2 separate regions of the Homo sapiens genome follow, and region 1 is linked to region 2. Evidence: fine-mapped expression QTL. A gene starts in region 2. The other region holds a variant in brackets. All regions are shown on one strand. Distances are from middle to middle. Region 1 has its middle 31 kb from the start of SLN. Region 2 holds the start of SLN (sarcolipin).

Region 1 (4,400 bases), 32 kb before region 2:
TGATGGACACTTAGGTTGCTTCGAAATCTTGGCTACTGTGAACAGTGCTGCAATAAATATGGGAGTGCAGATATCTCTCTGATATACTGATTTCCTGTCTTTTGGGTATAAACCTAGGAGTGGGATTGCTGGATTATATGGTAGCTCTATTTTTAGTTTTTTGAGGAACCTCCAAACTGTTTTTCATAGTGGTTGTGCTCATTTTACATTCCCACCAAGAGTGTATGAGAATTCCCTTTTCTCCTCATCCTTGCCAACATTTGTTATTGTATGGCTTATCTCTTAACTTGGTTTATAGAGTCCTGCTTTTACAGACATTTCACATTTTTAAATAGTCCAAAATGAACACTCTTTTTATTTGTAAAAAGACTGACCTACCATCTGACACCAAATGAAGGCAAGACCAGTCAACTCCAGTCATTCTAGTGATCTCCAGGCTATTGGCAAATAAGGCATTCAGCACAAGTGTTCTTTTAATTGGGACATGCTGTGAATAATTAGCATGGCCAGTCCCCATCAGGTGTCAGAGAGCTCTTCTTGCCTTCTGGAAGGAGTTTGGATGAGGAGTCATCTCCTGCTGGCTCCGCTCCTCATGGTGTGCCCTTGGTAGAGACCTGGCTTCCAGCTCTACCACTAATTCCATTTAAACCCCAGTTTCCTGATATGTAGAAAAGAATAACGCTGCTTCACAGGGCTGTTGGATGCACGCTGGATAGGGGTAAAAATGCTTTGCAAGATAACAGATAAAAGCAAAATACTGTTATTACTAACCTCTGTGGGCTTCATCGTTCATATGTGTAGAATAAGAGGGATGGGACTAGGTATTAACAGCCCCTTTCAGCTCTACAATAGCCTGTGATTCTGTGACTAGGGGTAAAAACAGAACCTCCAAGTAAGATGGGGTAGCAGGTGGCCTCTAGCAGTTATGGGGCTCTTGGTAAGGCCACCTACTGGAAGAAATATTACAAGGCAAATAAGAAAATGCAATATCCCTGCCTTCCTCTCTTCTTCACTTCTCCCATTCTTCCCTGCTTTCCTTTCATCTGTTTCTCCCTTCTGTCTTCCTTTCTTCTATTCTTGGAACACTCCCCCACTTTACTGGCTCAATTCTATTTATCCTTCAGATATTCTTTGTTTTTTTCCTGGGAAGCATCCTCTAGGAGGCTTTTAATGATCATCAAATTTTATGCAGTGGTGTCCTTCCTATGTGCTTCCATGGTGTCCTCATAACCTCCACCATTGCACTTACTCGTATTAATTGTCTGCAATCCTTATAAAATTTAAGCTTGGGGAATAGAGAGGGCTCATTTCTTGTTCGCTGCTGTATCCCCAGAGCCTGTTTCAGTGCTGGGAATAAAGCAGGGTGCTCAAATCCCGTTGGATGAAGGAGTAAATATACAGGAACTATGCTAGGCAGCATGAGTACAGAGATGAATAAGAATTGTCCTTAGCTATGAAGGAATTAAAGGTCTTGAAGGGAGGAGGGACATGCAATCAAGTAACTGCAATACTGTATTATAAGAACAAGCAACAGAAATCCATTTGAAAGTACAGCTTTATATATAGAGAAGTGTTTAGACAGGTCAAAGAAAGCACTCTGAGAAAGAGATGAGCTGGATTTTCAAAAATGAGCAGGAATGATGTGTCAATCTGAGTAAAGTAAGGGACTTGCCAGATAGAAGCAGCTCACTTATTTAATAATTAATTCAAAAAATATTTATTGAGCTTCTACATTGCTCCAGGTACTGTTGTAGGTGCTGAGGGTACAACAGATACAAAGAGAGTCCGCCCTGGTGGAGCCCCTCCTCACCTCCTGCAGAGGTCCTCTTTCTGTAGTGACCCCTGTCATCCTGGGCCTCTGCAGCTCTTCTGAGAATGTGGTATTTAATGCATATGAAGTCCTATAGAGTATCTGACATGCCTCTCTTTGATCCAGGAAAACAGGGTCCTGGCTGTTTTTGTGCTAAGGGAGACGTGAGGGTTTGTTTCTCAATGTTTTGATCAAAGGCACACAGCTGTCACACGAGAACGCCTTGGAAATGTAATCTGACTGCCCCAAAGCACCAACTGGCCTCACC[A/G]TCTGTCTCAGGCCACAGTCTGACTGAGGACTGTCTTTGGCTGAACACCCCTTGTATGGGTCAAATACTAACACTGGCATCCACCAGGGGAAATAACAAAGTAAGAAAAAGTAAAAATGGAATAAAGGCTGAAGGGAGTCTCATAAATCAACCCACACCATTATGCAGAGCTTTTATGGAGAAATCAGTAGAAAGAAATACAGAGTTACATAGAGGTGAAAGATAAATCATTAAAGGGGTCCTTTTATGGCAAAACTGAATTTCCACTTTCAGCAAGTTTTTGGCTGATTCCTATGGAATGATAGAATGGAAATGAACTTCTTTCCTGTGTTCTGCTTACTTATCTAAGTCAACTTGGCATTTTATTTTATTTTTGAGACAGGGTTTCACTCTGTTGCAGAGGCTGTAGTGCAGTGGCATGATCTTGGCTCACTGTAACCTCCACCTCCCAAGATCAAGCAATTCTCATGCCTCAGCCTTTCTAGTAGCTGGGATTACAGGCACCTGCCACCATGCCTGGCTAATTTTTGTATTTTTAGTAGAGATGGGGTTTCACCATGTTGGCCAGGCTGGTCTCAAACTCCTGGCTTCAAGTGATCCACCCACCTCAGCCTCCCAAAGTGCTGGAATTACAGGCGTGAGCCACTGCTACTGGCCAATTTGGCATTTTAAACAAGCCTTCTTCTCCAGGTGAGTGGCTGCAGGGACGAACATAAGATTTATAACTTTAAAGAGAGAAAGAGGATAGAAGGGGAATTGAGAATATATTTTATCATTTAAAAATATTGGATGGGTTGGGCACCGTGGCTCATGCCTGTAATCCCAGCATTTTGGGAGGCCAAGGCAGGTGGATCACCTGAGGTCAGGAGTTTGAGACCAGCCTGGCCAACACGGTGAAACCCTGTGTGTACTAAAAATACAAAAATTAGCCAGGTGTGGTGGCAGGCACCTGTAATCTCAGCTACTTGGGAGGCTGAGGCTGAAGAATCGCTTGAACCCAGGAGGCGGAGGTTGTGGTGACTGGAGATTGTGCCACTGCACTCCAGCCTGGGCGACAAGAGTGAAACTCCAGCTTAAAAAAAAAAAGTGGATGGAGGTGACAAGATGGCCAATAGATACAGTCAAGGAGCATCTCCCAATGAGAGAGACCAAAATATTGAATAAACCAACATCCTTAGGACAGATCTTTGGAGAGAAAACACAGAGTAATAGAGAGGTAAGGCAGACACTGAGACTGAAGAGGGAGGAAGCTGGGAACCCTGCACAGGTTTGCAGAGCACTGGGACTGGTTCCCGGCCCTGAACAGCTCCTAAGGAAGGGGTGAGTGAAGTGATGGCGGGGTAACCCACTCTCACCACAGACCTCTCAGATATTAGCTACAAGAGGTCCCATGACTCCTACAGATGTTTGAATTGTCAAGGGAATCTGCCTGGAGAGTAGGCAGAAACAGTGCTCCAGGCTGTGCAGAGCCTAGAAGGTTTTGCACATGGAGAAGCTGCAGCAAAATGTGGCCACAGGCACCCATCCCACAGGATTCTCTGTCTTCCTCTGAGTAGCTCTAACCTTGGCTGGCTGCTGGGCCAGGAGAGAGTGGGGCCATCTTTCCTGTGGGACTGGGGCATGTCTGTTCTGCATGCTCCTCTATCCACCAGCCCCTCCCAAGGCCCCTGCCTGGCCACTCCTACAAGAGCAGGTACACAGCACGGCCTCCACTGCCCAGGCAGAGTGCTTTCCTCACAGCCTGAGAGCACTCCAGCTCCCCCAGCACAACCAATGCCCAACGCAGAGGATGAAGCTGCAGGCCAGATTCCAATACCCCTGGGTTGCAGCACATAGCTCAGAAGTGGCAGGCTGAGATCTGGCCAGTGATTAAGTGGGAGAGGAACCTGCACACTCAGAACACTGAGAAGAGTAAGAAGCGGGTTCCTGGGCAGGTGCAGGAATGGGGTATGCCTCCCTCAAAAGTGCCAGTCTGGGAAGGGTGAGGCCTGTCTGGCAGGCAAAGCCTCTGCCTGAAGGAGCCCTGTGACCTGGAACACCTAACGAAGGCAATGTTGGCATGGTGCCAGTGTTAGGAGGGACCTCCCCTAAGGCAGGGGAATGGACCTGGTAAAGAAGTCATCTCTCTTCCCTCCCCACCACAGAGCACTGCAATAAACCCACTGAAATACGGAAGAGCTACTCAGCTAAATAAGAGCATATCTGTTGGCCATTACTCTTAAGCGCCGTCTACTGGATGACAGCCCAAGTTACAACACCAAAAATACTCTTCCAATATACATTATCTGTGAAATGCAGGGCAAGAATCTAGCCACAAATAAA
Region 2 (4,400 bases):
CACCTATAATCCTAGCACTTTGGGAGGCTGAGGCGGTTGGATCACCTGAGGTCAGAAGCTCAAGGCCAGCCTGGCCAACATGGTGAAGCCCCATCTCTACTAAAAATACAAAAATTAGCCAGGCATAGTGGTGCATGCCTGTAATCCCAGCTACCCAGGAGGCTGAGGCAGGAGAATCGCTCGAACCCGGGAGGCGGAGGTTGCAGTGAGCTGAGATCACGCCACTGCACTCCAGCCTGGGTGACAAGAGCAAAACTCCATCTCAAAAGAAAAAAAAAGTAAAGTAAAGTTTTGTTTTTTTCCCCTTTGGGTGGTGAGATTAAAAGTAATTTAAAAGTTTTAAATACTTTAATATATTTTCACATGTCCTACAATAAATATATAACTTTTTTAATTTGACAAAAAATAATTTTGAGTGGTTACAAAAAGGGACAGGTGTGGCTTGGTAACTAGAAAAACATTCCCAGCCTGGGAAACAATCTAGTGAGAGCTTGGAGGCAGAAGACAGAACTCTGATTACATTCAAGGAGTTTGCCAGATGGCAACAGATAACTGCCAATGTTCGGTTGCACTATAATTATTATACACTCTCTGTCACTTCAGCAAGCGCTCTTTTCACAAGACAAGTGGTGACAGAATGTTGTATTAAGATTACCCGTTGCTAAGCTTATGTTAAAATGAGGAAATGAAATGGAAAGTCTTGTTTTGGTAATGTCTCTGGGGTATGAGGAATGGAGGGAAAGGTTTGACTATGAGCATAACTGCATAGAGAATTTTGTTTGTTTATGCCTTTTGGGAATGCATTATTTTGATTGACCCTAATTGGGAATTCAGAGGGGGAGATTTCCTCTATTATCTATAAAGAAAGGATCTGCTGAGCAAACACAATTGCTAGGGTCATGTTTAAAGTACTTAATTGATCTGCTTTCAAGTCTAATTTAACACTTCAGGGGCTCCAAACATGTGATACATTGGTTACAAACTCATCTTAGTCTAATTTTAGTTAGTGTTCATATTAGAAAGTTATATAATACTTTTCTTTCTTTCAGATATATTCTATAATTCACATTTTTCACTAATTTTACCCAGTTCTCCTTCCACTCCCAATCTATCCAAATAACTGAGTTGAACTGTGTGAGTTTACTGCTCTATTAATTTATTGCCAGAGATATACAAACCATGACTTCCTCGGCTGTTTCAGATGAAACTGTAGATCCACGTGTAAACTTGCAATGCACAGCTTAGCTGGAAAGTTACGTGGAGCAGGTGACGGAGGGGATAGCTTTCACTGCTTGGACTAAAGTCAGTTTTGAAAGAGCTAAAGATGCCTATTGAATTCTGGAGTGTGTGTGTGTGTGTATGGGTGTGCATATGTGTGGGTGTAAGGCAGCAAACTCTTCACATTTCAAATAACTAAAGATATGGGTGGTAAAATGAAGTCACATTTTTACACCTCACAGGCTGACTAGGGAGAGCAGTCAAATGCAGCATCGATTGGTTAAAATTAGTCTATCATTCTTGGTTTATGATGTTTTAAAGACATGTTAAAGTTATTCATGAAGATGTAAAAGACACATTTAAAACCCACATCAATTGCACTAAAAGTCAACTGGAAACAGAAGGTTTTTAAATCCTGGTGGTGGCAAATTGGCAGCCAAAGGAACAAAGTCTTAGTCAACATATTTCCATGTCCCCCGAACACAAATAGCCTCGAACCTTCGGAGGGTGTTCCTTTGAGATGTTTCATCAGTGACATCACAGTGATTGCCAGCTTCCACGGACTACTTTAGGCGCTGCCCAGAGTCCAGGAGTCCAGACAGCCTGGGAGGGGAGAAGGAGTTGGAGCTCAAGTTGGAGACAGCGAGGAGAAACCTGCCATAGCCAGGGTGTGTCTTTGATCCTCTTCAGGTAACTGCAGGATTTTTATGCTTAGCATACGGTGTGTGTGTGTGTACAAGCTGCAAATGAGAAAGGCAGAGGAATGTTTGCATTTCTTAATGAAATAGGCAATGCCCCTTGGATACAGCATGCCTTAAGATATAAAGTGAGTACTATTGCTTTCTGTTTTCCTTTTTTTTTCTCCTAAGGGTATGCATTTTCTCCCTTCCTAGTAAAAAAAAATTTTTTTTCTTTCTTGTATTATGGAAGATGGTCTTTTTTCTATCTTCTCTAAGTCTCCATTCAAAGAAAGCCAATGTCAAACTTCCTGCACAATTTATTCAGAGCTTTTTGGGTTTTAGTTCATCCATTTGCAATCACTGGATCATATGGCATGACCTTGACTTCAGGGAATGTTTAAAATGAAACCCAAAGTGTCTTTATTGGTTAAAAGCAGAAAAATGGAACTTGGCTGATCTGAATTTCTGCCTAACTGGTTCATTCTTCCTAAAGTGTATAAATGTGTGTGAAAGGAATGTTCACACCACACCTTACAGTTAGCATATGTGTTGATTGAATTGAATTCACTAGAAATTCTCACCTTAACTCTTCATGTTTTATTCATCTAAAATCACATAAAACAACAAATATTCAAGGTCACCATTAAAGTGCAAGAAGTAGTAAGAGGTAAATCCCAAGAAAGAAAGAAGTGTGATGGGTAGCCTGCTAATTCAGAAATGACTGAAAAAAAAAAAGTTAAGAGTGCATAAACATACACAGTTTAAACAATAACTGAAAGGCAACACTTCTATAATTATCATCCAGGTCAAGAAACAGATCATTGCCAGCACCCAGAAGCCCATTCTTGATCAACCCCCATTCTGCCCCAAGATGTTGGGATCCTCTTGTCCCTGTTATTCTTTATAATTTGACCATCTATGTCTGCATGCCTAAACAATATGATTAACCTCCCTATTTTTGACATCATATAAATGGAGTCATATTCTCTGTTTCTTTTGTAAATTCTTCTTTCACCCAACAATTATATTTGTGAGATCTACCCATTTTCTGTGTAGCTATAGTTCATATATTTTCTTTGCTTTATGAAATTCAAATGTATAACTATACCACAATTTATCATCCATTCTGCTGTTGATAAACATTTGAGTTGTTTCCAGTTTGGAGTTATTGTGATAATATTGCTGTGAACTCTTTATTTATGTAACCTGGCACGCACGTCCTTGACTGTCTTAAGGTAGAAGTGAAATGCCAGATATTAGAGAATGAACATTTTCAACATTAATTCTAAGAAAGCTAAATTGTTTTCCAAAGTGGTTGAAAATTTATGCTAACTTTGTTTAGCCAGGCCAGTTAATTGCAGTGACAATTCACTTGTGTCATAACTCCTAGGAATTCTAGTAACTAGTTCCAGTCTGCTAATTCTAGCTTTGCCTCTAACTTGTTATCTGTCATTACACAAACATCTTAATCTCCTCTCTCTAAAAGTCAGTTTCTCAGCTGTAATCTTGAGAAAGATAAAAACTGCAGTAACACTTGCCTGAGTTGTTGCGAAGGTAACACAAACAGAGCTGTGGAACAGCTTTCAATAGTATTTTTCTCATTTTCTGAGTATATCCTGTTGGATCACTATCCATGATTCCCATGACTTAACAGCTTAATTTAATAGGCAGATTTGGTGGGACCGTTGTTTTGCTCTCCTTGAATTGTTTTGACCATTATAAGCCAGGCTTCATATTTTCTGCTTATCTCTGCATTTCTTGAGAACTTACCCAAATAGATGGACATTTGGACTATGGTTTTATTTCATTGATAAGTTTATAAGAAAGAGTCTGTCTTCGTTTCTCATTCCTTTGCCTCCAGGCACCTTGGCAAGACTCATTACCGTTCTGTTCTCCTCTGCTCTTTTGTACATTCTCATAAATCCTTTTTCCTTGATCCATTCATTTTATTCTGTTTACTTTCTCCTCCATGCAAATCTTTGTAAAGATTTTCTATTTTTTCCCCTTTTTATTTTCTTGGAGAGACAGGGTCTTGCTGTGTTATCCAGGCTGGTCTTGAACTCCTAGGCTCAAGTGATCCTCCCACTCCAGCCTCCCAAAGGGCTGGGATTAGAGGCATGAGCCACCACGCCCAGCCATTTGTAATGGTTTTCATTGGCAATTTACTATTTCCTTCATGCTGAGGTCTAAAAGATGGATAATAATTAAAAGGGAGATGAAATATAAATCTGTCATCATTTGGCTATATATCTACTGGTTGGCACCATCTGATTTGAACTTGTATTTTTTTTTGAGACAGGGTCTCATTATGTTGCCTAAGCTGGTCTTAAACTCCTAGGCTCAAGGGATCCTCCCACCTCAGCTTCCCAATTAGCTAGGACTACAGGTACCGACTGCCATGCCTGGCTGAACCTGTATGTTATGCCAATTACACAATATGAAAAATGATCATTCAGTTGGCATTTATGCAATTAACAATTTGGTCCATTGATAATATAATCA

Evidence for each region. PIP is the estimated chance that this variant, and not a neighbour inherited with it, causes the effect.
Region 1: its variant is the best candidate, but not a certain one, in a credible set for the expression of SLN in cerebellum (GTEx, PIP 0.58).

The regions. Positions count from the first base shown.
Region 1 is chr11:107,741,044-107,745,443 of GRCh38, reverse strand. No RefSeq gene overlaps it. Among named protein-coding and RNA genes, the nearest start is that of SLN, 31 kb to the right of the region's middle. RefSeq lists enhancers at 3,317-3,817, 4,115-4,244, 3,818-4,318. The variant A/G (reference allele first, on the strand shown) is at 2,079.
Region 2 is chr11:107,709,471-107,713,870 of GRCh38, reverse strand. It overlaps SLN (sarcolipin), which reads left to right and starts at 1,815. Exons shown (of 2, transcript NM_003063.3): 1 at 1,815-1,908.